Regions from separate parts of the Homo sapiens genome. Here all the other regions are linked to region 6. Evidence: fine-mapped expression QTL. A gene starts in region 6. Each other region holds a variant in brackets. All regions are shown on one strand. Distances are from middle to middle.

Evidence for each region.
Region 1: its variant is fine-mapped to the expression of FRAS1 in prefrontal cortex (ROSMAP, PIP 0.92).
Region 2: its variant is fine-mapped to the expression of FRAS1 in cerebellar hemisphere (GTEx, PIP 0.95).
Region 3: its variant is fine-mapped to the expression of FRAS1 in tibial nerve (GTEx, PIP above 0.99).
Region 4: its variant is fine-mapped to the expression of FRAS1 in aorta (GTEx, PIP above 0.99).
Region 5: its variant is fine-mapped to the expression of FRAS1 in lung (TOPMed, PIP above 0.99). The same link has a PIP of 0.9 or more in spleen.

Annotation. Positions count from the first base shown.
Region 1 is chr4:78,112,818-78,117,893 of GRCh38, reverse strand. The region is part of intron 2 of FRAS1 (Fraser extracellular matrix complex subunit 1); the gene reads right to left. Among named protein-coding and RNA genes, the nearest start is that of FRAS1, 58 kb to the right of the region's middle. The variant C/A (reference allele first, on the strand shown) is at 2,079.
Region 2 is chr4:78,077,764-78,082,839 of GRCh38, reverse strand. All of the region lies in intron 2 of FRAS1 (Fraser extracellular matrix complex subunit 1), which reads right to left. Among named protein-coding and RNA genes, the nearest start is that of FRAS1, 23 kb to the right of the region's middle. The variant G/A (reference allele first, on the strand shown) is at 2,953.
Region 3 is chr4:78,425,640-78,430,715 of GRCh38, reverse strand. It overlaps FRAS1 (Fraser extracellular matrix complex subunit 1), which reads right to left. Exons shown (of 74, transcript NM_025074.7): 36 at 1,490-1,621; 37 at 299-424. Among named protein-coding and RNA genes, the nearest start is that of ANXA3, 120 kb to the left of the region's middle. The variant A/T (reference allele first, on the strand shown) is at 2,063.
Region 4 is chr4:78,291,188-78,296,263 of GRCh38, reverse strand. The region is part of intron 14 of FRAS1 (Fraser extracellular matrix complex subunit 1); the gene reads right to left. Among named protein-coding and RNA genes, the nearest start is that of SNORD161, 4.7 kb to the right of the region's middle. The variant G/A (reference allele first, on the strand shown) is at 2,282.
Region 5 is chr4:78,334,067-78,339,142 of GRCh38, reverse strand. It overlaps FRAS1 (Fraser extracellular matrix complex subunit 1), which reads right to left. Exons shown (of 74, transcript NM_025074.7): 20 at 1,326-1,469. Among named protein-coding and RNA genes, the nearest start is that of SNORD161, 48 kb to the right of the region's middle. The variant A/G (reference allele first, on the strand shown) is at 2,587.
Region 6 is chr4:78,055,407-78,060,482 of GRCh38, reverse strand. FRAS1 (Fraser extracellular matrix complex subunit 1) reads right to left here and starts at 3,160. Exons shown (of 74, transcript NM_025074.7): 1 at 2,398-3,160. The coding sequence starts at 2,473. RefSeq lists an enhancer at 3,603-4,574.

The DNA.
Region 1 (5,076 bases), 57 kb before region 6:
CCACCAAAGGAATGCAGCTCCTCACCAGCAATGGAACAAAGCTGGACGGAGAATGACTTTGATGAGCTGAGAGAAGAAGGCTTCAGACGATCAAACTACTCCGAGCTAAAGGAGGAAGTTCGAACCCATGGCAAAGAAGTTAAAAACCTTGAAAAAAAAATTAGATGAATGGCTAACTAGAATAACCAATGCAGAGAAATCTTCAAAAGACCTGATGGAGCTGAAAACCATGGCACGAGAACTACATGATGAATGCAAGCCTCAGTAGCTGATTCGATCAACTAGAAGAAAGGGTATCAGTGACGGAAGAGCAAATGAATGAAATGAAGCGAGAAGAGAAGTTTAGAGAAAAAGAATAAAAAGAAATTAACAAAGCCTCCAAGAAATAAGGGACTATGTGAAAAAACCAAATCTACGTCTGATTGGTGTATCTGAAAGTGACAGGGAGAACGGAACCAAGTTGGAAAACACTCTGCAGGATATTATCCAAGAGAACTTACCCAATCTAGCAAGGCAGGCCAACATTCAAATGTAGGAAATATAGAGAACGCCACAAAGATATTCCTCGAGAAGAGCAACTCCAAGACACATAATTGTCCGATTCACCAAAGTTGAAATGAAGGAAAAAATGTTAAGGGCAGCCAGAGAGAAAGGTCAGGTTACCCACAAAGGGAAGCCCATCAGACCAACAGCTGATCTCTTGGCAGAAACTCTACAAGCCAGAAGAGAGTGGGGGCCAATATTCAACATTCTTTAAAGACAAGCATTTTCAACCCAGAATTTCAAATCCAGACAAACTAAGCTTCATAAGTGAAGGAGAAATAAAATCCTTTAGAGACAAACAAATGCTGAGAGATTTTGTCGCCACCAGGCCTGCCCTAAAAGAACTCCTGAAGGAAGCACTAAACATGGAAAGGAACAACTGGTAAGACCCACTGCAAAAACATGCCAAATTGTAAAGATCATCAAGGCTAGGAAGAAACTGCATCAACTAATGAGCAAAATAACCAGCTAACATCATAATGACAGGATCAAATTCACACATAACAAAATTAACCTTAAATGTAAATGGGCTAAGTGCTCCAATTAAAAGACACAGACTGGTAAATGGGATAAAGAGTCAAGACCAATCAGTGTGCTGTATTCAGGTGACCCATCTCACGTGCAGAGACACACATAGGCTCAAAATAAAGGGATGGAGGAAGATCTACCAAGCAAATGGAAAACAAAAAAAGGCAGGGATTGCAATCCTAGTCTCTGATAAAACAGACTTTAAACCAAGAAAGATCAAAAGAGACAAAGAAGGCCATTACGTAATGGTAAAGGGATCAATTCAACAAGAAGAGCTAATTATCCTAAATATATATGAACCCAATACAGGAGCACCCAGATTCATAAAGCAAGTCCTTAGAGACCTACAAAGAGACTTAGACTCCCACACAATAATAATGGGAAACTTTAACACCCCACTGTCAACATTAGACAGATCAACGAGACAGAAAGTTAACAAGGATATCCAGGAATTAAACTCAGCTCTGCACCAAGGCAACCTAATAGACATCTGCAGAACTCTCCACCCCAAATCAACAGAATACACATTCTTTTCAGCACCACACCACACCTATTCCAAAATTGACTACATAGTTGGAAGTAAAGCACTCCTTGGCAAATGTAAAAGAACAGACATTATAACAAACTGTCTCTCAGACCACAGGGCAATCAAACTAGAACTCAGGATTAAGACACTCACTCAAAACTGCTCAACTACATGGAAAATGAATAACCTGCTCCTGAATGACTACTGGGTACATAATGAAATGAAGGCAGAAATAAAGATGTTCTTTGAAACCAATGAGAACAAAGACACAACATACCAGAATCTCTGGGACACATTAAAAGCAGTGTGTAGACGGAAATTTATAGCACTAAATGTCCACAAGAGAAAGCAGGAAAGATCTAAAATTGACAACCTAACATCACAATTAAAACAACTAGAGAAGCAAGAGAAAATACACTCAAAAGCTAGCAGAAGGCAAAAAATAACTAAGATCAGAGAAGAACTGAAGGAAATAGACACA[C/A]AAAAAAAACTTCAAAAAATCAATGAATCCAGGAGCTGATTTTTTGAAAAGATCAACAAAATTGATAGACCACTATCAAGACTAATAAAGAAGAAAAGAGAGAAGAATCAAATAGATGCAATAAAAAATGAAAAAGTGGATATCACCACCTATCCCACAGAAATACAAACTACCATCAGAGAATACTATAAACACCTCTACACAAACAAACTAGAAAATCTAGAAGAAATGGATAAATTCCTGGACACATACACCCTCCCAAGACCAAACCAGGAAGAAGTTGAATCTCTGAATAGATCAATAACAGGCTCTGAAATTGAGGCAATAATTAATAGCTTACCAACCAAAAAAAGTCCAGGACAAGATGGATTCACAGCCGAATTCTACCAGAGGTACAAGGAGGAGCTGGTACCATTCCTTCTGAAACTATTCCAATCAATAGAAAAAGAGGAAATCCTCCCTAAGTTATTTTATGAGGCCAGCATCATCCTGATACCAAAGCCTGGCAGAGACACAACAAAAAAATAGAATTTCAGACCAATATCCGTGATGAACATGGATGCAAAAATCCTCAATAAAATACTGGCAAACCGAATCCAGCAGCACATCAATAAGCGTATCCACCATGATCAAGTGGGCTTCATCCCTGGGATGCAAGGCTGGTTCAACATACAAAAATCAATAAACGTAATCTAGCATATAAACAGAACCAAAGACAAAAACCACATGATTATCTCAATAGTGCAGAAAAGGCCTTTGACAAAATTCAACAATCCTTCATGCTAAAAACTCTCAATAAATTAGGTATTGATGGGACGTATCTCAAAATAATAAGAGCCATCTATGACAAACCCACAGCCAATATCATACTGAATGGGCAAAAACTGGAAGCATTCCCTTTGAAAACTGGCACAAGACAGGGATGCCCTCTCTCACCACTCCTATTCAACATAGTGTTGGAAGTTCTGGCCAGGGCAATCAGGCAGGAGAAGGAAATAAGGGATTTTTCAATTAGGAAAAGAGGAAGTCACATTGTCCCTGTTTGCAGATGACATGACTGTATATCTAGAAAACCCCATCGTATCAGCCCAAAATCTCCTTAAGCTGACAGGCAACTTCAGCAAAGTCTTAGGATACAAAATCAATGTGCAAAAATCACAAGCATTCTTATACACCAATAACAGACAAACAGAGAGCCAAATCATGAGTGAACCCCCATTCACAATTGCTTCAGAGAGAATAAAATACCTAGGAATCCAACTTAAAGGGACATGAAGGACCTCTTCAAGAGAACTACAAACCACTGCTCAATGAAATAAAAGAGGATACAAACAAATGGAAGAACATTCCATGCTCATGAGCAGGAAGAATCAATATCATGAAAATGGCCATACTTCCCAAGGTAATTTATAGATTCAAAGCCATCCCCATCAACCTACCAATGACTTTCTTCACAGAATTGGAAAAAACTACTTTAAAGTTCATATGGAACCAAAAAAAGAGCCTGCATTGCCAAGTCAATCCTAAGCCAAAAGAACAAAGCTGGAGGCATCACGCTACCTGACTTCAAACTATACTACAAGGCTACAGTAACCAAAACAGCATGCTACTGGTACCCAAACAGATATATAGACCAATGGAACAGAACAGAGCCCTCAGAAGTAATGCCGCATACCTACAACTATCTGATCTTTGACAAACCTGAGAAAAACAAGCAATGGGGAAAGAATTCCCTATTTAATAAATGGTGCTGGGAAAACTGGCTAGCCATATATAGAAAGCTGAAACTAGATCCCTTCCTTACACCTTATACAAAAATTAATTCAAGATGGATTAAAGACTTACATGTTAGACCTAAAACCATAAAAACCCTAGAAGAAAACCTAGGCAATACCATTCAGGACATAGGCATGGGCAAGGACTTCATGTCTAATACACCAAAAGCAATGGCAACAAAAGCCAAAATTGACAAATGGGATCTCATTGAACTAAAGAACTTCTGCACAGCAAAAGAAACTACCATCAGAGAGACCAGGCAACCTACAGAACGGGAGAAAATTTTTGCAATCTACTCATCTAACAAAGGGCTAATATCCAGAATCTACAATGAACTCAAACAAATTTACAAGAAAAAAACAAACAACCCCATCAACAAGTGGGCAAAGGATATGAACAGACATTTCTCAAAAGAAGACATTTATGGAGCCAAAAGACACATGAAAAAATGCTCATCATCACTGGCCATCAAAGAAATGCAAATCAAAACCACAATGAGATACCATCTCACACCAGTTAGAATGGCGATCATTAAAAAGTCAGGAAACAACAGGTGCTGGAGAGGATGTGGAGAAATAGGAACACTTTTACACTGTTGGTGGGACTGTAAACTAGTTCAACCATTGTGGAAGTCAGTGTGACGATTCCTCAGGGATCTAGAACTAGAAATACCATTTGACCCAGCCATCCCATTACTGGTTACATACCCAAAGGATTATAAATCATGCTGCTATAAAGACACGTGCACACTTATGTTTGTTGCGGCACTATTCACAATAGCAAAGACTTGGAACTAACCCAAATGTCCAACAATGATAGACTGGATTAAGAAAATGTGGAATATATATACCATGGAATACTATGCAGCCATAAAAAATGATGAGTTCATGTCCTTTGTAGGGACATGGATGAAGCTGGAAACCATCATTCTCAGCAAACTATCGCAAGGATGAAAAACCAAACACCGCATGTTCTCACTCATAGGTGGGAATTGAACAATGAGAACACATGGACATAGGAAGGGGAACATCACACACTGGGGCCTGTTGTGGGGTGGAGGGAGCGGGGAGGGATAGCATTAGAAGATATACCTAATGTTAAATGACGAGTTAATGGGTGCAGCACACCAATATGGCACATGTATACATATGAAACAAACCTGCACGTTGTGCACATGTACCCTAAAACTTAAAGTATAATAAAAAAATGAATAAATAAATAA
Region 2 (5,076 bases), 22 kb before region 6:
CTAATTTTTGCTTTTAAACAAATTGACGAGAAACCTAATTAAGTTTTCAGCTGATCATTAAAAATAATTTTTAAGGATCAATTAATTGATTTTGGCCTATAATTCAGAAGGAGTTCAAAGAGACTATAACAAAGTCTTTCCTTTCCTATCTACTTATTATGTGAATGAATTCCACAAAGTTTACATCTAGACAAGTGAAAAATAAGAATAGAACTGATGCTGAATCCTGTCTCCTGTAGCAATAAATAATATGCATCCTGGATGAACTAACAGAAGAAAAAAAAGCCCCATTCATCTCATTAAGAGATGCATTTCCAATGAAACTGTACTTTCTAACATTTAACAAGTATTTATCAAAAATTTTAATGTATTTATGTTGTTTTGCTCAACTGTAATAACTCAATCCAAAGGAAATTACTTAACACTTTGAGCTTTATGTTCACAGGAAACATTACAAATGCTTTAAATTTAAATTTATATATGTATTTCATTGCAGAGAAGTATAATAGGGTGATCAGTAAAAGACTTTCAAGCATAAAGGTAATAGGATAAATTCCATAGGAAAACTGCCTCAAAAGTGAAAGTGTGAGAAAAAGAAAGGACATATATTTTCAATAAAGAAGAGTTTGTGTATTTTTTATGGGTGCCAGTGGGAATCAAATTGCTATAGTATTCAGATTCTATTGGAAACATTAGAGAGGGACGTCATAGTTCTATCCTAAAGTGTCATTTTTCAAATGCAAAAACTTACAGACATTGCAACTCATGCATCTTTTGATAAAAAATGTTAGATATAATATTTTAAATGTGTAAGGAGGTACATGGTTTTCAAACTATTTGAGTGGAATATGAGTAAGATGCGGGAAAAAAAGAATTTAAACAAGAAGAGCACAGACTTAAACCAAAGAAAATTAATCACTAAGCCTGAGAAGCAGCCCTCCTTTTCTAAAGGATATGGCGTAAGGAAGGAGAATGCCAAAAAACAAACCAGGGTTCTTTGAGAAAGGAGGGAGGAGGAAAGAAGGAAGCTTTCTTAGGTAAGAAGAGTGTTTGTCCATCCATCCATCAGCTACGATGCCCTGAGGCAGCTGCTCAGGCCTGGACTTCCTTAACTGTCTACCTTCTGACTCTGAGGCTCCCAGATTCTATCTCTAGCCAAGACAAACAGGTAAGTGAGGACCTACCACAGAGGGGCTGGGAAAGCTAGTGATAAGGTTCTTGCCAATTTATTGCCCAGGTTTCTCAGAAAGTCTGAACTCAATTAATATGTTCTTTTGGTTTCACCCCCTTACCCCTCTCCTTTCCAGGTAAACAATGGCTCTGAGAGGCTGGATAGGGGGAGTTCACATGTAGCCCAGAACTACCTACAATCATTGCTTTCTTTGGGCATCACAGTCTTGCTACAAAATCTATACCAGCACTGCCCAGCATGGGAGCTACTAGCCATGCATAACTATTTAAATTTAATTAAAAATAAATAAAATTTACAATCCAGATCCTCTTTCACACTAGCTGCATTTCCAGTGCTCAGTAGCCACATGTGAGTAGCAAACAACACAGATATGGAGCATTTTCACTGTGGCAGAAAGTTCTATTGAAGTTGCTGGTCTAGATTTCCACGAGGCCAATATTCTCCCTTGTGGGGACTTTTCTCTCAGGGAACCTGTTGTTGCCCTTTACAGTCTAGCTTTCCTTTCTGCAGCCCCACAAACCCCCATCCTCACAGTCTTTAACACATGACCTTAGATGTCTGAATTCCAGTTGTTTTCAGCGTTGAAGCTCTTTTCCAGGGGGATCCTAGGCCCCAAACAAATCAAGGTATGTAGCTAAACACTGGTTTAACATTTACCCAAGCTTTCTGTGACAGACAGATCGTGTTTCTCCAGCACAGGAAAGAGGACAGATTTTAGGGATGCATAGCCCATCTCCACTTGCCTGCACATCCCAGTTTCAAGTCTGATTCAGTAAGACGTCCTGGGACAGATTTAAAAGGTAATGTAACTATGAAGGATTTAAAAGAGAAACAAAAATAGTCTTGCCACAGAAATGGAAGATGAGAAGAGAAAATAAATATTCCAAAACTATAAAGGAATTTCGAGTGGTAAAGCATTTGTGAGCCCAAAATTAATGCATCTTAATATGCACCTACAGAATGCTTACATGTATCTGCTTGTACAATTGATGTATGCAGTTTAAACTATGTAATTATGACAAAAGCAGAACTGAGCATAGAAAATATTATTTCACACAGTATTTTCCAAAGCAGATACATACCAACTGTTCACATGCACAAACTCTGAACCATAGAATGTATCCAATTAAGATAAAAGCTATTCCACTTACAAAAGATTTGATACTTTAATCGACTTCTTGCCTATGATAGAAAAAAATGATTTTAAGTCTATACAGTTACAAAGAAACAAGCCTCACAAATATTTGGCCAAAGTGCTTTCCTATACATTCATCCGTTTCTCCTGAACACCTGAGCACATCAGCCTCTTATCTAATGGACACTTCTGAATACCGCAATTATGCCTCCTCTTCTAGCCCAAGGTAGTGCAGACAGCAAGCAGTCGGCTTTCTGTTCCCCAGGGGAATAAATCAATCAGGCTTCTCGAGGCAGAGGCACAGTGGTATCCATTTTGGCTTTTCACAGGCCTTTTATTGTTAGTTCCTGTTTCTTAGCTGTGTTCCAAACAAGTGAGTTTGCCAGAGAGCTGATTTGCTGCAAGGTGAGATGCCATTCCACCTGTAGTGTAAGTTGGCCCCTTTGGGGCCAAAGGGGAGTTAAGAGATAGGAAACCTGGTTCCGATGATGCTTTCTCCAGCAGCGTTCATTAGGCCAACCAGGCAGATGGCGGCTCTCACTTAAGACTTTGTAAGCAAGCCAAGCTGCCTCCAAATGTCTATTTATCCTTGTAGAGAACATCTGCTGCTTTCTCTTTGGCCAGC[G/A]TGCTTTCACTTTTAGAACTGCCCTCCTCCACTTGGCTGTGTAGTAAATCATAAGGTTTCTTCTTCCCCATTGAGGGTGTGATTTTACCTCGGGGTATGATCCTTGACTTGAGCCAGAACAATCAGAGTGTTTTCTGGAACTTTTGCCGGAGATAGCATCTCTGAAGGGGACTCACTTTTCTCTTGGAATATTAGCCATTTGAACTGTATAAATCAATGCTGCCATCACAAGGAGGCTGCCAACCCAGAAGAAAGTGTAGCCAAGAGAGATAGCATGAAAAACACATGTTGACATCATGTGAACGCATATATACCTCAGTCTCAAGCTAATTTTATCCCCTTGGACTTTCAGTTGAGGGAGCAGAACATTACAGACTTTGCTTAAGCTAGTTTGAGTTGAGTTTCCATTACTCACATTAAGAGTCCTAAATAATATAATTTTCATAGACTTTATCTTACTTTGCTCCTATCTTTGAGAAAGAACCTTGTCTAAGTTGTCCCTGCCACTTGTGGTTTGATTCCACCCCATCTATCTGGTCCATTCTTGGTTTTCTTCAGCCATTTTTTCTTCACTCTTTCAACTTCTGTCCTTTCTCTCCACTGATTCCTTACCCTCTACTTACAAGCTCTCTCTCTCTTGTTGACAAAAAAATGGGGTTTTTCCCCCTTATGAGACCCCAATCACAGAAAGACACATTTTTAAAATTAGTTTTAATCACAAGATTTGCATTGAGTACTCAGCCTTTCACTTAACATTACCTCAGAAATGTGCCATCATGGCCACATGCTCTTCTCATCTATTATCTTAATGGCTACATAATGTTCTATGTCAAGTTAATCTACGATGATTTACTTAACCACTCCTCTAATAGAGACATTTAGGTAACTTCTTATTTTATAACATACATAATGCCAGAAAGCAACTTCTTTACAAATAACTTTTCTTTCTTCTAAATTGATTTCTTAGGGCAAATTCCCAGAAATCTCATCAAAGCTGGGTTTAATAATTTAAAATTTTTAAACAGGTATAAGGTTATATCCCATTACTGATTTAGTTTTTACCTGGTTATTAACAACAATTCTTCTTAATATATTTGTTTGCTACTTGTATTTTCTCTTATGTAAACTCTCTATTCTTATTCTCAGCCACTTTAATTCCTAACATTTGGTGGTTTCTTAAATACTTACATGAATTATTTTTGGTTAGATTTACATTTTTAAATTTTTTTGTTCTTAATTATTATTGAATGAATTATTTATAAGTTCTACTATGTAATTCTTTGTAACACTAAATCTTTGAAAACCTGTACTTTATTTTTTCTTTTTAGTTTTACACTATTAGATATTTTTAAATGTCATCAAATTTGTTAATACCATCTTCTATTCCATCAACTTTTAAAAATTAATCATTCTCAAACTAAATGTTGGTTTTATTCTTACCAAGGTTTTATCCTTACCTTACAGTCAGAGAATATACTAACTAATGGCAGTGTAAATTAGTATGACTTCCCCAAAGGGCAATGTGGTAATATGTATTAAATGTATAGACAAACATGCTTTTTAAAAATGTATACCACATGACTCAAAAGTTGCATTGCTAAGGAATGTGCCCAAAGGAAATAATTGAAGAGTGCGCAAGAACATTCATCACAGTGTTGCTTACAACACCAAAATATCAAATTAATATGAATACCAATAAACAGGAATGTGTAAAATAACTTATAGTCTATCCATAATGAATAATAGTATAGAACTGTGTATTGACATAGAAAGATATCTATTATACAGTATTAAGTTAAAAAAATAGCTAGCCAAACAGTGTGCATATTGCAGTGCCCATTTTTGTTAAATACACACATAGGAAAAGTTCTGCAATAAACTCATCTAATATTTAGTATTAATTATTTTTGTTTGTGGAATTACTTGGATTCATGGAGTTTTCTTCCCATTCTCTCTTTTATATTTGCTGTTTTTTTTTTTTTAGAACAAGGCTGTATTGCTTTCAGTATAATAAATAAAGCAACATGGCCATTTTCTCTTAGAAAAAAACAAAAAAGAAAGTTCTTCCTCCTCAAAAGTTGGAATGATACTGTGTTTCTGTGTTTTGTGGTTTGGTTTTTGAAA
Region 3 (5,076 bases), 370 kb before region 6:
TATGGTGTCATTCTGAATGCATTTACTCCAAGTTTCAGAAATCACCCATTTCACCTATAGTTTAAGGAACTGGTTTCACAGGGTTCAAGGTGGGGCCGGGGGCAGGTGTGGGGCAGGGATGGAAGTGGGAACACGAAGAAGTCTCAAATATCAAAGCCAATGAAACTACACACAAAATAGCTCCTCATAGTCTGTATCACAAAGACGCTTTGCTCTCGTCTGAGACACATAACAACTGATTGTAGAGCAAAAAATCCTCCAAGCAGGTCAGTGACAGAGTGTGTAGGTGTGTAGCTACCTGTGGCCATCGGCCTTCGGAACTCAGCTGTATGCTTAAGAAGCACACCATGCTGTGGAGGTCTCCGAAGCTCAAAGAAGAGTTCTTTGGGCGCTGTCTCAGCATCTCTTACTACCACCTGAAGTCCTGCAGCAAGGAGAAGGAAGCGTGGTGAGAGAGAAAGCGTATGTTAAAGACGATAGACTATATATTAAAACCGCAGGCCAGGCTAGGAGTCATGCTGTGGGTAATCTGATTGTTATCAGAAAGCACTGCTTCATTCCAATCAGGCACAAAAGAGTAAAAACAGATAATACAGTCAATTCCTACACTGCAAGTAGGTGCTTCCAAAAGTTCATGTAAGGTAGTTCTGAATTTAGAACACCTTTTTTCTTCCATACAAATGACAGCATGCACAGAGGAAGCCCACAGGTAGGTCAACCCTGACTAGCTGGGTTAGATTTTCTTCCAGAAAATCCTCCTATAAATTGTTTGGCATTTCATTGTTTTGTCCCTTCTTATTTTTCTAAAGCTACAAAGAGCCAAGTGAGCAATGATCACAAAGGTGAGGTGCAGGGTTAAAGTGACAGGCATCCTTGTACACATGGCTTATTTGTAAGTTTGGTAAAAATTAATTTTAGGCCAAACCCCATATGTAGAAACTGGATAAGGATCTCTAGAACACACCTAACAAAAATCACAATACCTACTGTTTATTAGTAAAATGTTCTTGATAAAAGAATACATTTCTAAAGATTAAATTCACTAATTAGTACATATAATTATATACAAAATAACTGGGTCAACTCTAGTTCTTCACAACTTCTGAAGCTTCTTGTGACCTGACATTTCTCCTGCTACTCTTCACTTTCTAAATAGAAACAAGAGCCGCCATTGAAATCCTGCTCCCCTCTATGTTCTTCTCGCCGCTCTATTACTTTATATTTTAGTGATGGCATCAAAGCAAACTCCCGGAAAATCAGTTCTGTGTTGTGTTCCACCACTGAACACTGGCCTCTGAAGGCTTCATTTCCTTCTCTCTGTGCGGCTTCTGTTTGCATAGAAATGGGCAGGAGGAAGGATACAGGTGAGAATGCAGGCAACTTCTGGAAGAAGAGTTTGCTTTTTTGGCAACCATCAAGAGGTTTGAAGAGGGGCAGCAATATGATCCCATTTCCAAAGCCATGTTTCTATCAGGCTCCCAGTTCTTACCTACAGAAGTGCTGCCTCCTGGGCTGACCGCCAGCCGTGGAGCTGTGACCTGGAACACTGGCAGTTGCTGATCACTGGGAAGTAAGTGAATGGTGAGGACCATCTCCGGACTTGTGTGTTCTCCATCTGAAACTAAAAAGGATAAATGCACACACACACAGAGACACACACACACACACAGAGACACGCACACACACACACGAATCAACTTGTAGTCTGGTCCTCTTCAGGCAGTTTCCACAAATATGTAGCTAGAAACTTTTTTGCACTACTTTAACCTTTGAAGAGATGCTTACAAATGAAGAAAGTAAGCAAGCAAGATACTGTGAGCTATTCTTTTTTCTATGGATAAGAAAAAAGATAAAGAACCATAATAACAAAATCATTCTAAGAGGCTACTTTCACAACAAAGGTGATCTTGATAAATGTTAGTGGAAAGGAAGGTAACACAAAATCTGCACCCATAGATGCTACTGGTAAAGGCTTTTGATTATGGAAATATTTCTTGATTCAATTCATTCCCTTATTATTCCAAATAAATATTTTCTTTCATGAACTCTTTTAGAAGTGGCA[A/T]GTCTATGTCTCATTAGAAAAGAATACTTTTGGCCGGGCACAGTGGCTCACACCTGTAATCCCAGCACTCTGGGAGGCCGAGGCAGGCGGATCACGAGGTCAGGAGATTGAGACCATCCTGGCTAACACGATGAAACCCCATCTCTACTAAAAAATACAAAAAATTAGCCAGGCATGTTGGCGGGCACCTGCAGTCCCAGCTACTCAGGAGGCTGAGGGAGGAGAATGGCGTGAACCTGGGAGGCGGAGCTTGCAGTGAGCCGAGATTGCACCACTGCACTCCAGCCTGGGCGATACAGCGAGACTTCGTCTCAAAAAAAAAAAGAATACTTTTTAAAAGGACAGACAATACCCATACCAATGTCTCTAATGTCATTAGTTTGGAAGTAAGCAGATCCATTTTTACTTGGTCATGATGCACAATGACATAAATAGTGAACAAAACAGTGACCTTAAGATTTTATTTCCCTGGATTTTTTGACATCCAAGTGAACATCCATCTCTGAGGAAAATACGAGAGCAGAATTGCCTCACCCTTGATGCTTATTTCCACTTTTCCATAACTTAACACCCTATCTTTTCCCCAAAAGCCAGTTTTGGAGGGATATTTGCATCATCAGCTCATCAATGTGTTTATCTGTAGTGGTCTTTAAGAAAACTGCACTGTTAATTATTTTAAATGTGTGATAAGCTTGTCTATGTGTTGGTTATGAGAAACTAGTTTCCTTCCTCACTTTCTTCTGGACTTACTAACAAGCCAGCAAGAATCTTGCTTAAGCAAAGTCAAGCATTGCTCAGCGACGTGTAGTAATGATTCTATTCAAGTTTTAGATTTGTCTTTCCCTTGAGACAGATCTGAAAGATATGGTTAAATTTTATAAGGTACACTCCATGTCTTGGAGATGTTCAGAAACAGCCCTATTGAAGGTAAGACGACATTATCCATGTGAGAATGAAGGTTTTATGGCTCTGGTCATTCAGACAAGTGTCAAAATTATTGTCATTGCTTCTTTACATTTGATCTCCTCTCTGGATCTTCAAAAATAGGCACAGATGGTTCTTAATTATTGGGGATTTGGTGACAAGCATACAAACTTTTTCATAAGTTTTAGTGGATTCAGGATGCTCTGATGTCTCTGTAATCTAAGATAAGAACTAGTTGCAAAATGCAATTTTATTTTACTTTATATTTTACATTAGTTTTATTTCTGAGTGGGAATGTCTTAGTCCATTTTTTGTTGCTTATAACAGAAAACCTAAAGCTGGGTAATTTATGAGAAGAGGAATTTATTTCTTTCACATATGAAGGCTGGGAAGTCCAAGGTTGAGGGGGTACATTTGGTGAGAGCCTCCTGGTGTTGGGGACTCTGTGAAGAGTCATGAGGCAGTGTAGGCAGTCACGTGGCGAGGGGGCTGAGCTTGTGATTTTAAGTCTCTTGTTCTCTTTTTAGAAAGCCACCAGCTCCCCTCCCATGATTAACCATTAATCCACTAATCCATTAATGATTAAACCATTCATGAGGGCAGAGCCTTCAGGTTTCAATTACCTTGTAAAAGCCCCACCTCTCAATACTGCCACATTGAGGATTAAGTTTCAACATGAGTTTGGGAAGGGACATTCAAACCATACCAGGGAGGAAGTCCAGGAAGCTTTCAACATCCTTATTTTACAGGAGGAGGGAAAAGGTACAAAATTAAAGAGCTTTGGTCACATCATACAGCTGTTTAGTGTGAACAAGGCATATTCTTGACTCTGTAAGTAAGTGGAAAAAAGCTATTTTCTGGTGCATATTACATAACTAGCTATCACTTGGGTGCAGGGTTTTGCAAGCAATCATATAAACTTCCAATCAAAATGTCAGCAACTGCATATTTATCCCTCTCTTTAAGGAATGTCTCTAATTTCTTTGAGAAACAGTCAAATGCCTTTTTGGGCTAAATGCCCCTGTGAGCACCACTTGCCTTAAGTGTGTTCCTTGCTCAGAACTGCTCTCCAGAGCTTCTGCATTTGTCCTAAAGTCAGTCAGGTCCCAGGAACATCAGCCTTCCTTCTCATCTTAGCTGATTCACCAAAATGGGTGGTTCTCCTTCATTCTACAAATTAATGTCAGCTCTTGGGCTTTTTCCTGCCTTATTCATTAACTGTCCAATTTAAAATTCTCTCTCACAAAACTCTCCAAAACGACATGGCTTTCTACTAGATACCAAGGGTTTTTCTTCTTTAAAATCAATAAAAAAGGAACATCTGGCAGAAGCAAGATAATTTAAGGTCAGCCCAAGGTCTAGGCCCATGGGACTGTATAATAGGTTCAAGATCATTTAACTTAAAGTCCTAGACAAGTTAATTGTTAACCCTTCACCTACTCAAGCTTTCAGGTAAGAGTTGAGGCTTGGAAACCAAAATGGCATACTACCATGACACTCACTTTTCATAACCAACACACATACATGTCAGACTAAACTAGCTATTCCATGCTCATGCTCTAAGTCAGAAACTTGTATTAAAATCCTGCTTCTACTGTCTACCTGCTGTGGAAATCTGAGCAGATCATCTACTTTTTTTTTGAGACAGGGTCTAACTCTGTCACCCAGCTAGAGTGCAATGGCACAATGATGTCTCACTGCAGCCTCAACCTCCCCAGTTCAAGCAATCCTCCCACCTCAGCCTTCTGAGTAGTTGAGACTACAAGGAATATTACTATGTGCGTGGGCTGGTCTTGAACTCCTGGGCTCAAGGAATCCTCCCTCCTCACACCTCCCAAAGTGCTGGGAGTACAGGTGTGAGCCACTGCACCTGGCCAGGTTATCTACTCTTAATGACTTGGTATCCTTAGGTTTAAAATGCTGAAAATAATATCCATCCTTAAAATATTGTTATAAGAATTAAATAGTACAATTTTTATTGTAAATTGTTTTATAAAATATAAAAATCTGCCATATATCATTACTGATTGTATGAATTATGTAGAGGCCTATGACTAGAAATGAGCTGATACTGGGTTCATATCAACAGT
Region 4 (5,076 bases), 240 kb before region 6:
AAAAAGTACAAACACGTAAAAAAAATCTTCAGCATCATCAAAAGCTGGAGATATGCAAACCAAACAGGAGAGCAGCAACTAGATGCACTGGATGAGACATGCACATTATATTTTTAAACTGCAATTACTTTTGCACCACCTAATAACATGTATGCATCCTAGAAACACTGCTTAGTGAGAAAAAAAAAAGTCAAGAAAGAAGGAAATATCTGGCTGAGTTTGGTGGCTTGTGCCTGTAATCCCAGCAGTTTGGGAGGCCAACGCGGGTGGATCACTAGAGGTCACGAGTTCAAGACCAGCCTGGCCAACATGGTGAAATCCTGTCTCTACTAAAAATACAAAAAAATAAAATTAGCCAGGTGTGGTGGCACACCCCTGTAGTCCCAGCTACTCAGAAGGCTGAGGCAGGAGAATCGTTCGAACCTGGGCAGGCGGAGGTTACAGTGAGCCAAGATTGCGCCACTGTACTACAGCCTGGGTGACAGAGTGAGACTCCATCTAAAAAAAAAAAAAAAGAAGGAAATATCTACTCAGGCATACAAAACAATAAGAGAATATACATACAAAAAGTACACACTAAATCACATTAGTGTAGTTATTTAAAAGGGGAGCTGGGAAGAAGGAGAATGGGAATAGGGCATGATAACAAAAGGAATAGACAGGCAGATGGATGGGCAGACAAATAAGCAAGAGAATAGCTTGGCCCAGACCAATGATGAAAATGGGCCATCAACTGACAAGCATGATTAACTCCACATGCTTCATAAGAATCCCCAAAATAGGTAAAAGATAAAAATTAAACAAGATTTCATTTTACATCAATCAAATTGACAATTTAAGAAGGCTTGTAATACCTAGTGTTGACAAGAGTGCTGGCAAGTAGGCACCCTTATACATTTCTGGTAAGAGTACAAATTAGTACAACTTTCTTAAAAGAGTATAATATGTTACTCTGTGTCAAAAAGCTTAAACACTGTACATAAACCTTTGGACCCGGTAGTCACATGTCTAAAAATTGATTCAAAAATATTTACCACAATTTCTACTAAAAATGTTTACATCATGGTTACATATAATTAAAAAAATTGGGAACAAATATCAAACCATAGAGGATTGGCTAAATGAATGATTGCATAGCCAGAGATGGAAAATTATACAACAGGTTTAAAAAGATGTTGTAGAAGGATAAGTAATAACATAAAGCAAGCAAGCAATAAAACTGTAAATAGAGTATGATTTTAGTTTTGAAAAAAAAAGTGTATGTGTATAGACACACAAAAAGATATCTTTATAAATTAGGAAGACATACACCAAAATACTAACAGTAGTGATTTAGGGGAGTTTGAGTTAGAAATTTTAGCTGACTTTTTATTATACCTTATATTTTATTGACTTTAATTATTTTTTTTTGGAATAAACATAAATTCATTTGGTATTTGGGGGGAATTTTGGTAATTTTCCTAATGATGGAGGGAGGAAAGCTATAGTCCTTTTCCCTAAGGTACATGCTAGGTAAATAACTTGTTAACCTATTAACCATGATTGTGATACAGCTGAATGATTTACCCGTCTTGAGTAATATATTTGAATTTTTAGCAGGGTCTTTGGTAGACACAGAACTTGAACCAAAGGAAATTACTTCCCAGCCAATGAAGGCTTTGGCAGGTCCACATGGACCTTTCATTGCTTCATAAGTCAGAGGACAAAGCAAGACATTCAGCTCATCAGGAGTATCTGGTAAAGTTATCTCTTCTATTTCCTGCCCCTCTACCTATATTCCTAAATCGACAACATAGGTATAATCCAAGGGTTTTCAAGACCACCAGCTTCTCAGCTTCTACTCATCCTCTGTGACCACTGAAAATCCACAGCTGCTAGGACTCCCTGTGTTCCCTCCCCAATCCTACACCCAGTGGCCCCTGTTAATTAAATGCCTATTGTCTACTCCAGTGATGTCTACTGAAACTGAAGAGCCAAAGGCGGGACCGCAAACCAAAACAACCTTTTGATGGGGAGAGTTTTCAGACCTCCTGGCTGCACTAACACAGCTGCTCAGATCTCAGCAGCAACAACAAGGAGGTGCTGTTAGCTCTGTGAGCAGCATAGAAGCAGGGGAGGGCAGAACAGGGACAGTGCTTGGGTGGGGAATGGAGAAGAGAAAGAACGTATGCCATACAGTCTAGCTAAAATAACTGAGAACCTTCCAAACTGGGCAGAAAGCCAGAAGACTTGTCACTAGTTTGTAATCCATAGCTGAAATACTTTGGGGTTCAGATTTGTC[G/A]GGAAGAATGGGATCTGTCTGAAAGATAAACTCTGTGGCATCTGTGGCAGGCTTTCTCTGCTGGTATGTGATACTTTTGTTCTGTCATTTGTCTTCTGGCATACACAGCAAGGGTCTAGAAGTGGCAAAGACAAATGCCAAACACAGCCAGCTTCCTGCCAAAGCAAAGGTCCCAGACACAACACCACCAGCTGTTTTCCCCTCTTCTCTCCATTTTTTCTGCATATGAATATAATATCCAAAGAGAGAGGGGCCTTGGAACACTGTTGTCACCTGCCTCATTGGGTCTTGTTTACTCAAAAAAACTTACATTCTAGGAAGGCAATCCTATTGTCTTCCCTTCTGAATGGCCTGAAATACTCCATGGACACGACCCAAGTTTTGAAGACAGTTGATTTTATAAGTCACATTCCCAACTCTAATAAAGCCCACAACTATGTTAAACATGAGGAAAAGAGAAGAAAAAGAGGGGTGAGAAAAATAGAGAGTCTGTAATTATCCTGAGGCCACCACTAGCCAGAAATTGCTGACAAGGAGCAAATAGTGGAAGCCAAATGGAAGATAGGTCATCTGTAAGCCAAAGTTTAGTCATGCCTGTACATTTCTGTTGATTGCTCTCTATGCAATGGTTTATCACATTTTTTCTATCAAAAATTATTCCAGAGGGCCACAGATATACTTAGCACCATGTGAAATTCAGAAGTATACGGCATGTCCCTGCCCCAATGACTGATCATTTCCTATCATATTCCCCTGTAAGGTATCTTTATAGCACTGATAATAATAATTTCATATAATGATAACTATCTAAGTATTTAATATTATCTTGTTTATTTGTTTAGAGGCACTCTCCTCCCATTGAGGAAGTTAAGTTCCTTAACTAGAGGGAAGTTTTCTGTCTGCTTCACTCTGTATCTCTGGTGTCTGGGACAGGGCGTGGTACATAGAAGAGGCTCCACAAATATTTATGCATGAACAGAATCGAAGAGACAGGAGATACCACTTGAAGCAACAAGTCACCTTTATGAGACAGTCAGCAATTTAGTAAGGGACCATAATTGCTGTAGAATGCCAAAGAAGTTCTGAACAATGCATAGGATTTAAAGAGTAGAACAAAATGAGTGAAGGCAGTGGTAGAAACATGCAGGGCCCCTAAACTGAGTATGTGACCCGGCAATGAAACTGAGACTAACCCTCCAATCCTGGGGTATGTTGCAAGGGCCATGGAGGTGACACCAGCTTGGCCATGACTATCCCAACAGAGAAAGGGGGGCCCCTGTCTTGCGAGGAGGGCTCCTGGATTTCAGAACAGTAGTTTCATAGGTGCCATTGTCAAGAGGTCCACCCAGGGCACAGCCAGGCTGGGATAAGTCATGTGTTGGAACACAACACCAAGACCCATTAAATCCCTGCTGCTTTGGACCTGGCTTTGCAAGGTCAGTGCTTCATTTCTGCAAATGACTGGCTGCTCCAGTCAACCATCGTTCCAACAAATAATTAACTTCAGAAGGTCCTCTGCTCAGGCCACAGCTTTTAAATCTCAACTAGGTCAACATCCTAGTTGTAAATTTTATAGGTTTTTTTATTATAAACTTTTCCTCTAAATATGTCACAATATTGGCTAAGAAACAAATAATCATAGATTCTCATTGTTTAATCTGAGCACTTAAAATTTTCTTTCCTTTTTAAAAGAAAAAGGGATTTTAATTTGCTATAAAGAATACAGTATACTGTTCTCTATATATTTACTTCTCCATAACATATAAAAGCAGATTTTATTTAGATGAGACATTAATGGCAGAAAGCTTTTTGTTACTTAATGAAAGCTATTTGGTTTTTATCTCTATAGGTTGAAAAATAAAGGAATGGTTTCAATAATATCAATAGCTGCCTTTTACAGTCCACATACTAAGGCCAGGCATAATGTATTTATACATTTCAAACAGCTTTTCTAACCTTCATAATAATGGTTTAAAGTAGATAATATCGTCCCCATTTTGCAGTTGAAAAAATTGAAGTTCAGAGAGGTTAAATGGTTTGCCAAAGCCCTCTTGCAGCAAGTGGTAGAGGTGCCATTCAAAATAATCCTATCCCTTATAATCCTGTAAAATGTTCAGTTGTTTGATTCTTTACGTCTCAAAATCTGAGACCATACAGCACTCAGATATAGAATAAACTTCAAAGGCTTTTGGATTTTGTTTTTGTTTGTTTTGTTTTATTTTACATCTCTATAAGCAACAACTAACCTGCCTTGACTGTGAGCTCACTATAGGCAAAGACTGAATCTTATTTACTTTATACACTTCATGTACTCAGGACCTAGAACAATGGTCAAAAAAGAATGAAAGGGGAAATGAAATAAAAGGAACAAGGAAGAAGGACAATAGAAAGCAGAACCCAAGTCTCTAAACTTATATGAAGGGCTTTCTAGACACCAGGTACCATCTCCTAAACCAGCGGTCCCCAACCCCCAGGCACAGATCAGTTTCAGTGTGTGGCCTGTTAGAAACTGGGCCACACAACAGGAGGCAAGCAGTGGGTGAGGCAGCATTGTCACCAAGCTCTGCCTCATAGGAGTGAGTGCAAACCCTATTGTGAACTGCCTATGTGAGGGATCTAGGTTGCAGCTGCTTATGAGAATCTAACTAATGCCTGATGATCTGAGCTGGAACAGTTTCATCCCGAAGCCACCCCCAGCTCCCCGGTCCATGGAAAAATTGTCTTCCATGAAACCAGTACCTCGTGCCAAAAAGGTTGGGGACTGCTGCCCTAAATGGAATATGTGAATTCACTCA
Region 5 (5,076 bases), 280 kb before region 6:
TCCCACTTTCCAAGACAGTCCTGACTACGACTAACATCACTAGCAATAGACTCACATCCTACAGCTGATAGGAATTCTGATTAGTCCAAATCCTGGACTCTGAATTTCCACTTTTTGTTGCACCTAAAAGGCTTGCACAGTCTCTACACTTGGGCTTCCGCTCCGAATCCAGCATTCTGGGCTGCAGCCCTGTGCTTGACAGTTTGGTTTTCTTAGGATATAGACCTTAATACCAAAATGTCTAGTCTTTAATGTCATATGCAAAAATAAATGGGTCACCTGGACCATGGCACCACCAGCCACAGGGAGCACAGCCACTGACTTGCTGTGCCCCGCCCCACCCTCAATCCACCAGACCGAACAGCCGAGATGTCAGCGCCATCCCAGACTGAATGTGCCTGCTGGATACTGTGATCTAGACAACTGGCCATGCCTCTTCCCTGCTCCAGAACAAGCCTGACAGCCTGGTCAACCTCTCAGCACACTTTCTCACCTTTCCCATTTGCCCAGTAGCATCCCAGGATCTCCCCAGTTCAGCCCTTCTGAGCTGAGGCAACAGCTAATAAAGGAGAAGCTCTGCAAGTTTTTCCCAGAGTTTGAAAAAGTGGATCAAGAAATATACAATAACCCATTACCCAGTAAATTCCCCTCCCCAGTCTATAGGCTCTTTGGTGGTGGAGTCATTGTCTCCTTCATCGTTTTCCTGTATTCTGAGCATCTGACCATTAGTAGGCACTCAAAAATGCACATTTGTTGTCTGAATAGATAGATGAACATAAATGATGTCTGGTTCCAACATTATTCAAATTTCAGACTGCTTTCCTAATTTTTTTTTTTAGATCTGAGTTCTAAAATGAGGAAGAAAAAAAAAATCCCATCTCCTAAGGCAACTGATCTACTTTTAGGTTAATCTCTCTAAAATTTTGTGTCTGGGGCTGATGGCAAAGATTCTCCACAACAAGAAGCAGGACAAAATGCAGACAAGAGAAAGGAAGGCTTGGAGTGACTTATTTTCAGAACACTTTTTGCTATCTTAAGAAGTTTTGAATGCATATAAAGGTGCTATTATCATCACTTCATTCTTCATTAATATGAGAGTCTGAGATTTTCAGGATTTGCAAGAGTATTATTAGAAGTTCTATTTAAATCCACAAGTATTTACTAAATGCCCAAGGAGAAGCAGTAACATGAGTTTCCAGACATGAAACAAATGTCTCCTATAAAAGAGCTCATAAACTGAGGACAAAGAGCCCCCTTAAGCCTGGTATGAAGAGCCCCGGCAGCTGCCCAGTGATTTCCGAGGAGTCCACAGGAGTTTCACTCACCAGCACAGTATCCCACGAGGTTGAGGAACTGCTCTTCCCTGCAGCTGGTCCTGCAGTTACCATTGGTAAGAGAGATGTGAGGGTAACAGGAGATGCAGTCAGACTCCAACGGCCCATGACACTGCCTGCAGGTTGGGTGACACTCTGGCAGGGGGACGAAAACCAGGATTGGAATTAGCAGCTCAGCATGTATATGCGTGAAGTATTTAATGCATTCCACAAATTACATTAAAAGCAGACCTCCAACTCTAATCATCTTTAGAAGATTCCTGAGCAAGCCGGGCACACCCTTGGACCTGACCTAGAGACTGCATTTCTGATGTCAAGGGCAGTACTGTCCATGAACACAATATGGAATCTAGAACTATAAATATGTGAGAAATCGGCCACACATTCCAGAGAGACCAGCATGATCATCTCCATCTGTGTAAGTAAGGAAGTTCAAATCATAGTCACAGAGCAGAAACACGAGTGGTAGGACTCCCTGACCCTAACATACCATGACTCAAAGAATGAGTGGGACAGGGAGAAGAAGGGGACATTTTGCTTCTCAGAAATTTCTAGCAGATGAGGGGGGAATCCACACACAGCAAACTATACTGCAACTTCTCTCTAGAGTCAGGCACCATCCAGACACTCCCTTCAAGCCACTACCACTGGGATGCTTATTTTATCAGCAATACTTAATTAAAATACAAAGAACAGAAAAAGTCCTCTTTCTGGAGGTTATCGTGAGCTGCCTCTGAAGTTCAATTCCTTAGAGACAAAGTTATGCCAAAGCTATGTCTTCTCCAAAAAAACCACCAAATTAACAAGAGATACAACACTGAAACAAACCAAGAGAGTCACGGTAAGGTGTAAGCAATAAGGATAAGGGTGGCAAAGAATCAGAGGCGGCTGCAGCTGCAGCTGCATTGACGCTGCCAAGGGAGCAGCAGGAGCAAGCACATGGAAGCAGATTTAAGAACTTCTCTGCCAAGGACAAGGAGGTCTAAGCAGGTCTGAGTCCAAGAGGAGGGGATGTGAAGGGCTGGAGCTGGGTAGATTTTGCAGGAACTGATGAATTCCCTCCTGGCACGTGGCTGGTGGGAAGCAAAGGCACAGATTTCAAGTAAAGCCTCTGGATTCTGGCAAGAGGCCAAGAGAAGATAAGGAGTTATTTAAGAAAAAAAAAAAGCAAGCAAGCAAGAAAATAAACTGCTGATTAGAAGGATAGCACTCTCACCCCTCCTACATTCCTGAGGCTCTCAATGTTGAAAGC[A/G]CCTATCCAAAAGACATAGCATTCTCTGGATGATTTCCAACACCCAGTTCTTCCTCCCTATCAGAATATTTCCAGTGACCTGGGTGCCCTGCTGCTTATGGTACCATCCATCTGCTGGCTCCCAGCGGAAAGAGGCATGGACAGAGAAGAGCTAGATCTACCCAGACTTTCCTCCCCTAAACAATTTTATACATACAAAAACCAGCTGGGCTAGGATGAAAGCACCTAAGGATAGAAACAGCTCTCAAGGGCAATCCTAATGACAAAGAAACCAGGAACATTCCCCCACTGAGCTTGACAGAGTATTTAAAGTAAAGCAACTCACCAGGGGACTGCAGAGATTAAAAAGACAGTTAGAAAAAGGCAAAGAATTCCAGAACAAATATAATATTGATCTTCAATCATCTAAATTTGTGTTCATTCTAAATCACTTCTTTGAAGTTTAAGGCTAGATGAATGTAACAGATATTAATTTATTTTAAAAACATGTCATAAGTTTATTACATTTACTGACTCCAGAAATTCATGTAATATAATTTCATATCAGTTGGCTTTTTCCTATCAGCAGGCCCCAACTGTCTATTTTTTAGAAATAAAAGAGAAATCATGATAGAATGTTTTTTTTCCTGTATATACCAAAAAAAAAAAAAAAACCACCACACACGGTGCTACAATAAAGTCCTTAAATTTTAGTACTGTGTCAATTCCAACAAAATTCTGTACTAATCCCAACTAGTGATTTTCAAAATCTCTGTCACTAAAACATAAAGGTGATCTTAAAAAACATACTGGACTGACATGTTAAAGAAGGAAATAAATACCTCCATCTCCTTTTGCTCTATTCTGCTGTAGCCCGGGGAAAGTGGGGCTGGGAAGTGCACAGTTACCTGTGCCAAATTCTTGATTCCATACAAGTGCATTAACACCCAAGGTAGCTTGTCTCCATGATGAAGATAATCAAATCCATCCCTAACTGTGTGCATAAGCCATTCCTCCACTGAGAGGTGTATTCTGTTCCTTCACCCGCTCAAATATGGGTTATCTTGCTTTGACCAACAGAATATAGCAGAAGTGACAGTGAGACTTCTTAGGTTAGGTGATAGGCAGCTTGCAGTTTCTGCTTAGGTCTCTTGAAATACTCATTCCAGGAGAAGACAGCTGACACATTAGAAGACTGACTAGCTGAGATTGCCATGCCATGAGGAAGTACAATTAGCCACGAGAAGAGGCCTCATAGAGTAAGAGATTGTTGACCAACCCAGGTGACAGACGTCAATGAAGAGCCCACCTGCAGGATCTGAAGAAAGAGCTGCCCAGCAATCCTCAGAACTGGGAAATATAACAATTGTTGTCTTAAGCCACAAATTTAGGGTGGTTTATTAGGCAATAATTGACAACCAGAGCAGTACCTCATTAAGAGGGAGAAAGTAAAAGATCGCCCTAGTGTCCTCAAGTGTCCCAGTTGCCAAATTTCATTTCTTATGTGAAAAGAAATGGAGCCAGATACAGTGACTCACACCTGTAATCCCGCGATTTGGGATGCTGAAGAGGGAGGATTGCTTGAGGCCAGGAGTTCAGGACAAGCCTGATAACAAGGTGAGACCCTGTCTCTACAAAAAATTTAAAAAAAATTACTTGGGCATGGTGGTGTATGCCTATAGTTCCAGCTACTTGAGAGGCTAAGGTAGGAGGATAACTAGAGCCCAGGAGTTCAAGGCTGCAGTGAGCTATGATCATGCCACTGCACTCCATCCTGGGTGACAGAGTGAGAATCCATCTCTTAAAAAAAAGAAAAAGAAATAGAATAATATGCAGCCATGAAAACGATAAATATACACACACGTATCTGTACATATAACATTTTATCACATAGAAAATTGCTTATGACAGCTGGGCATGGTGGCTCATGCCTGTAATCCCAGCACTTTGGGAGGCTGAGGCGGGTGGATCACGAGGTCACGAGATCACGACCAGCCTGATCAACATGGTGAAACCCTGTCTCTACTAAAAATAGAGGAGTTAGCTGGGTGTGGTGGCACGCACTTGTAATCCCAGCTACTCGGGAGGCTGAGGCAGAAGAATTGCTTGAACCTGGGAAGCGGAGGTTGCAGTGAGCTGAGATCGTGCCACTGCACTCCAGCCTGGTGACGGAGCAAGACTCCGTCTCAAAAAAAAAAAAAAAAAAAAAAAAAAGAAAATTGGTTATGACTTTATGTTTTGAAAAAAATATTAAAAAGTATAGCTCTAATTTATTCTCAATTATGTAACAACATGCATAAAAAGTAGATCAAAAAGGAATCTATCACCAGGGTAATATTTGTTGCTTCTAAGATGTGGCATAATCAGTTATCTTTATCCCCAAACCCCCATTTATTTTTCCTATTCTGAACTTTCAATCCTTCCACAATGAGCACATATCTTTTTAATAATCAGAAACATAAACTTTTAAACTTTTTTAAAAAGCCACAGGCTGGGTACAGTAGCTCACAT
Region 6 (5,076 bases):
CCCATACCAACCACAATTGTTCTCTCTGTGCACTGAGAAGAAAACGACAAATTCTGCCATAAGCTGGTCAGCAAAGGTGTCACAAGGTACATCCCATCAAAAGAAGTATACATGTGAATGTCTCTTTTCTATTTTTAAAAATTATTCTCTAGGCTGATAATAAAAACTTGAGGAGATTTCTAAGATCCTTGAGGTTTCCAACCTTGATCTCAATGCTCTTATTTTTTAAAGAAAAAGAAAACCTTGAGAGGACCAAACCAGAGGTCTCATCAGATGACAAATGTTTTTTTGTCTGTGGGAGTGATATCACTTAATTAAACTAATTAAATGAGATAAAGTATGTAAAGTGCTTAGCAAAGAGCCAGGCAAACAATACCTGCTCAATAAATGGCCATGTTCATTCATTCATTCATTCATTATTAGATAAGCACCATTATGACGTGGGTGGAAACTCAGACATCTATCAATTTATCAATCCAATTTGTGAAACAGCTATAGAATGCTCTGACAGTAAAGTCAAACAATAAGAAGCAAAGTTTCCAAAGACTCTTTGGAGTAATATCCACACCCTCTCTCCGCCCCCGCCCCCGCCCCCCGTCTCTACCCCCAGCTTTCTGTGCTTCACATCCCCCCATCCCCACCTCCCAGTCTAGATTCCGCACTTCTTAAACTTGGCCCACTGGATCAAGCAATCTGCCAAAGAGCGCACCCTGCAGGCTCTTAATAATAATGCCTTTTGTTGATTTCAGAGTTTTGGTTCCGACAAGCTGCACCATTCCAACTGCCCCCTGGTGAGCTATCCGGGAGTGATAGCACGTTTCCTGCGTTGCTGGGATAGGACTCTAAATTTTAAAAACTGCCACCAAGTGAAATTAATTTTTCTAAGTACCAAGTTCAGGTTTGGGTGGCCTGGGGTGACTCTCTCATCTGGTTTATTGTTATAATCAAGCCCTACAAGCTTTTTTTTTTTTTTTCCAAAGTACGCGCCCACACGCACATAAACAATAAAGTTATATTTCTACAGGACTTGCACTGTTGGGAGAAGGCTGCACAGGCCCCAGATGTGCCTTTCGCGGAGATTATACACACTTGACACACATCCCGGAAGAGTGCAGAAGGCAGCACCTGGACCCACGGGAAAGTCCCCCACCCTTGTGCGTGGATTCCCAAGGCCTTTCTCTTGGGAAGCCAGCAAAGAAAAGGCAGCTGCTCCAGTGACTGGAGGTCGACCCGAGGCAGAGCTTTGTCCTCCCCGGGCCTCCCGCAGCCCCCAGTCCTGCGCCAGAGCTCGACTCCCGGGAGCCGCCCCGCGCCCCTTCCTAGGCACCAGGGCGGAGAAGGCGGCCCGCCCTGCGCCCGCCGCCGCCGCCCAGCCGCGGCTCTGGTTTGCGGCTGGGCAGGTGAACTCTTCTTCCCGCAGCTGGATGAATAATGAATGGAGCCGGGAGGGGAAGCCGAGAGCCAGGCGCTGTGGATTAAGCCGTCTTCCTCCCAGCCCGCCGGCTCCCTTCCCCCTCCCTAAGCACTGGCGGGGCGACTTCCCTGGCTCCTCGGAGCAGGAGGGAGCTCACAGCGCCTCGCGTCCCCAGGCCCGGCATCCCATGACCCCAAACTCTTGATTTACTTATTGACTCATTTATTTGGCTGAGCCCGGATTGCATTTGATATCATGGCGACAACTAGTCTCACGGCTTCCTTTTCTCTCCTGCGGCTCCGGGGTTTTACAGGTAGCTTGGAGCCTCGGAGGAAAACCAGGAGGCGGAGGGTGAAGTAAAAGAATGAACCTAAACTCTTATTAACCACTTTTGTTCTGGGAAGCAGGCTGGTTCGTGCTTCTCCGTACTGGAGAGATTTCTTTCAGTGCAACTGAACTGCCCACGACCAGAACACGCTCCAACCAGTTAGTTATAAAATCCTAACTGGACTTTAGGGGGAGACTAACTGAGGTAAGGAGGGCGGGAGAGCGATGGGGCTTTAAGATGAAAGACTGTATGTTTCTTAGGAACAGAAGTATTTTTAAACAGGTAAGAGCAATTGTTCGCTCCTCACCTGTGCTCCATGCAGTTGCTTTCCCTTCGGGGAAAGGTAGGTGGTGGAAAGAAAAAGGATCAGTTTCAGAGATGTCACCTCCATCGGCCACCCACCCACCCAAAAGCACTTAGGGCAGAGAGGGAGGCCGTTTCGGGGGTGTAATCCGAATACAAAACAATCAGGAGTAGGAATCTTATCAGAAAAAGCCTATTCCAGTTTCACTTCCACCTCACCCTTCCCAGAAAAACTTCCACCTCACCGAAATACCATAAAACCTGCTGAGATTTTTAAACTGCACGATCACTCACACATACACACACACACGCACACGCACACACACACACACACGCGGCACCGCTCTCTCACCTTCGGAATGATGAGGCAATACTGCAAATTCCGCCAACGCTAGGGCCAGCCCGAGCCACACTTTGAGGACACCCATCGCCGCCTCGGCACCCACGATGGAGGAGCCCAGCCTTCAGCATCCAAGAAGCGGCTCCGCCAAAACGCTGGCTCCGGCGCTTGGAACCCGGGCGCACTGAAGGTGGGGGACCGCGGGCCTTTACCTCCGGGAAAAAGAGATGGACGGGCGGAGAGCGACACTCATCAGCCCGGAGGCGCCGGAGCGGGCTGGGGTTCAATTCACTCGCTGCTCAGGCAGAGAGCGCGCCGAGTTCCCCCGCAAGGCAGGACGCCAACGTGAGCTTTGGGAGAATAAGAGGAGGCAGAGCACAGTTCTCCGCGTCAAAATCTCGCCGGAAAGTTGCTGGTCACTGGCCGATGGGATCTTCCAGCATTTCCCTCGGGCTAGACCCTTCCGATCCCGGGTCCCCGACAGTGGAAATCCTGGCTCTGGTTTGTCCGAAGCAGCTTTTTAAAGTTCGCTTGGCACCATACGTCGGCGTTGCGTCGGCACCGCGGGTCGCCGGGAGCCCCGAAAGACCCACCCACACCCACTCCTTGGTCGAGCCACCCGGCTCGGCAGACCTCATCTGCCGGGGTCCGCTCGCTGGAAACTGTGCAGCGCTGAGGGCAGCTCCGGGGACTCGCCCGCCCTGCAGCCGCACCGCACCACACCGCCTCAGGCTGCGCTCCCTGAAGCAGACTGTTCGGAAGCTTCAGAGGAAAGACTGGGGGGCGCTGCTGCTACTTTCTCGTCCCCGCCCCTCGCCTGGGTGAGGAGGGCTGCGGGGACGCGGCTTGCTGCACACCAACACCCACCTCCGCGCTGAACACCCCGGAGGAGGTCTGCAGGGTAGAGGTGCAATGATTACGGGAGTGGAAGAAGAGCCATAATTTTAATTGCACGGAGGAAAAAGCTAGCGAGGCTGGAAAAGACCCCCAAACTCAAGGCCACTCTGGCGAGAGAGCCTGGAAACGCCCAAAATACGCCGGGTCTGGACCCCGTGTTTAAAGGACACACGTTCAGCCTTCCTCTAGTCTCCCTTGCCTCCTTCCTCTCTGCTTTGCTCGGTGTGAAAATGGACCCAGAGACTCGGAGCTTTGGCGAAATTCCAGAGAGTCACGTGGGGAAAGGGAGAAGCGAGGAGGGAGGTGAGGGGAGGCCGGGAGAGCAACCTGATCCCTTTATTCATTCTGCTGGAGTTCAGATTGGCTTTGTCTGGGGAGGAATCAAAAGTGCTCATACCGGGGACGGAGGGGGTGGAGATAGGTTGCACAGTTCTTGCTCAGGCACACCGGAAGGCAGATGAACCGTGTCCACATCCCTTGTTAGGGGAGGAACCGATTCGGCGGGCTGGGGGAGCGTGTGCCCACATCAAAGGCCCTGGGGCTACCTCCCACCCCCACAGCCCGCCACTCCTGCTGAACTAAGTGCGTCCGGGGGACCTGATTGATCCTTCTTCCTCGCTCTGGGACCCTCAGGCTGTTGCATCCTGGCTTTTACCAGCAGCCCGGGAAGATCTTGGTGTGTGTGTCCTAGGCGGAGCCTGAGAGCAAATGCACCTTTCCCTTTCCCTAGGAGACTCTGTCAGTGGAACACAACGCGGTCTGGGAGCTGTGGGTCCAGCTGCGCCCCCAGATGCCAATGGCTGGGAAAGTAACATCAGGACACGGCCGACTGGGGCGCGCACTTGAAGAGCAGAGGCCTTGATTCCCCGCCAGGACTGACTGACGGCAGCTATTTTTATAGGACCGAATAAAAATAGCTGGTCCACGTTTAATCGTTTTATAAGGGAACAGTTGCATCAGAGAGATGCTGACTGGGTTCTGATTGGCCCAGAGAAGAAACGTCTCGGGTCCCTCAATTGAGTCGGGATGGGCGAAACTGTTGGAGGGGAAGCAGTTGCATGAGCTGTGCTGGCGGGGGTCCCACTTGTTTCCAGTCTTCACGAACACCATGACGCGGGCCCACGTTCTAACGTGCACTGACGCCACTTGGAACAATTCACTTTTCCGAATAACTGGAATAACTTGAAACTGGCAGGTCCCTGTCAGTGTTACTATTCAGCCAGAACAAAGGAGAACCTCTGACAACCTGGCTCTGAATCTTAAGTATTTGGAGGACCCAGGGTTTGCACATTTCGCCCTCAGTCTCTCTGTTGGGCTGTGGTCATTCTAGGGACAGAGGTTGTATCATCTTTGTATAATTGAAGCACATAGTAGGTGCTCTTTAAACATTTGTTGAAATAATGGATTAAGTGCCTGAGAGCAGCGGCCATATCAAGGGGAGCTGCGGGCCTTAACCTCCTCCCAAAAAAAGACCCCTCCCTTTTTATTTAGAAAGTAGGGCCTGTGCGGTGGCTCACGCCTGTAATCCCAGCACTTTGGGAGGCCAAGGCAGGCAGATCACGACGTCAGGAGTTCGAGACCAGCCTGGCCAACATGGTGAAACCCCATTTCCACTAAAAATACAAAAATTAGCCACGTGTGGTGGCACATGCCTTTAATCCCAGGTACTCTGAAGGCTGAGGCACGAGAATCACTTGAACCCGGGAGGCAGAGGTTGCAGTGAGCAGAGATCTCACCACTGCACTCCAGCCTGGGTGACACAGCGAGACTCTGTCTCAAAAATAAAGGTCGGGC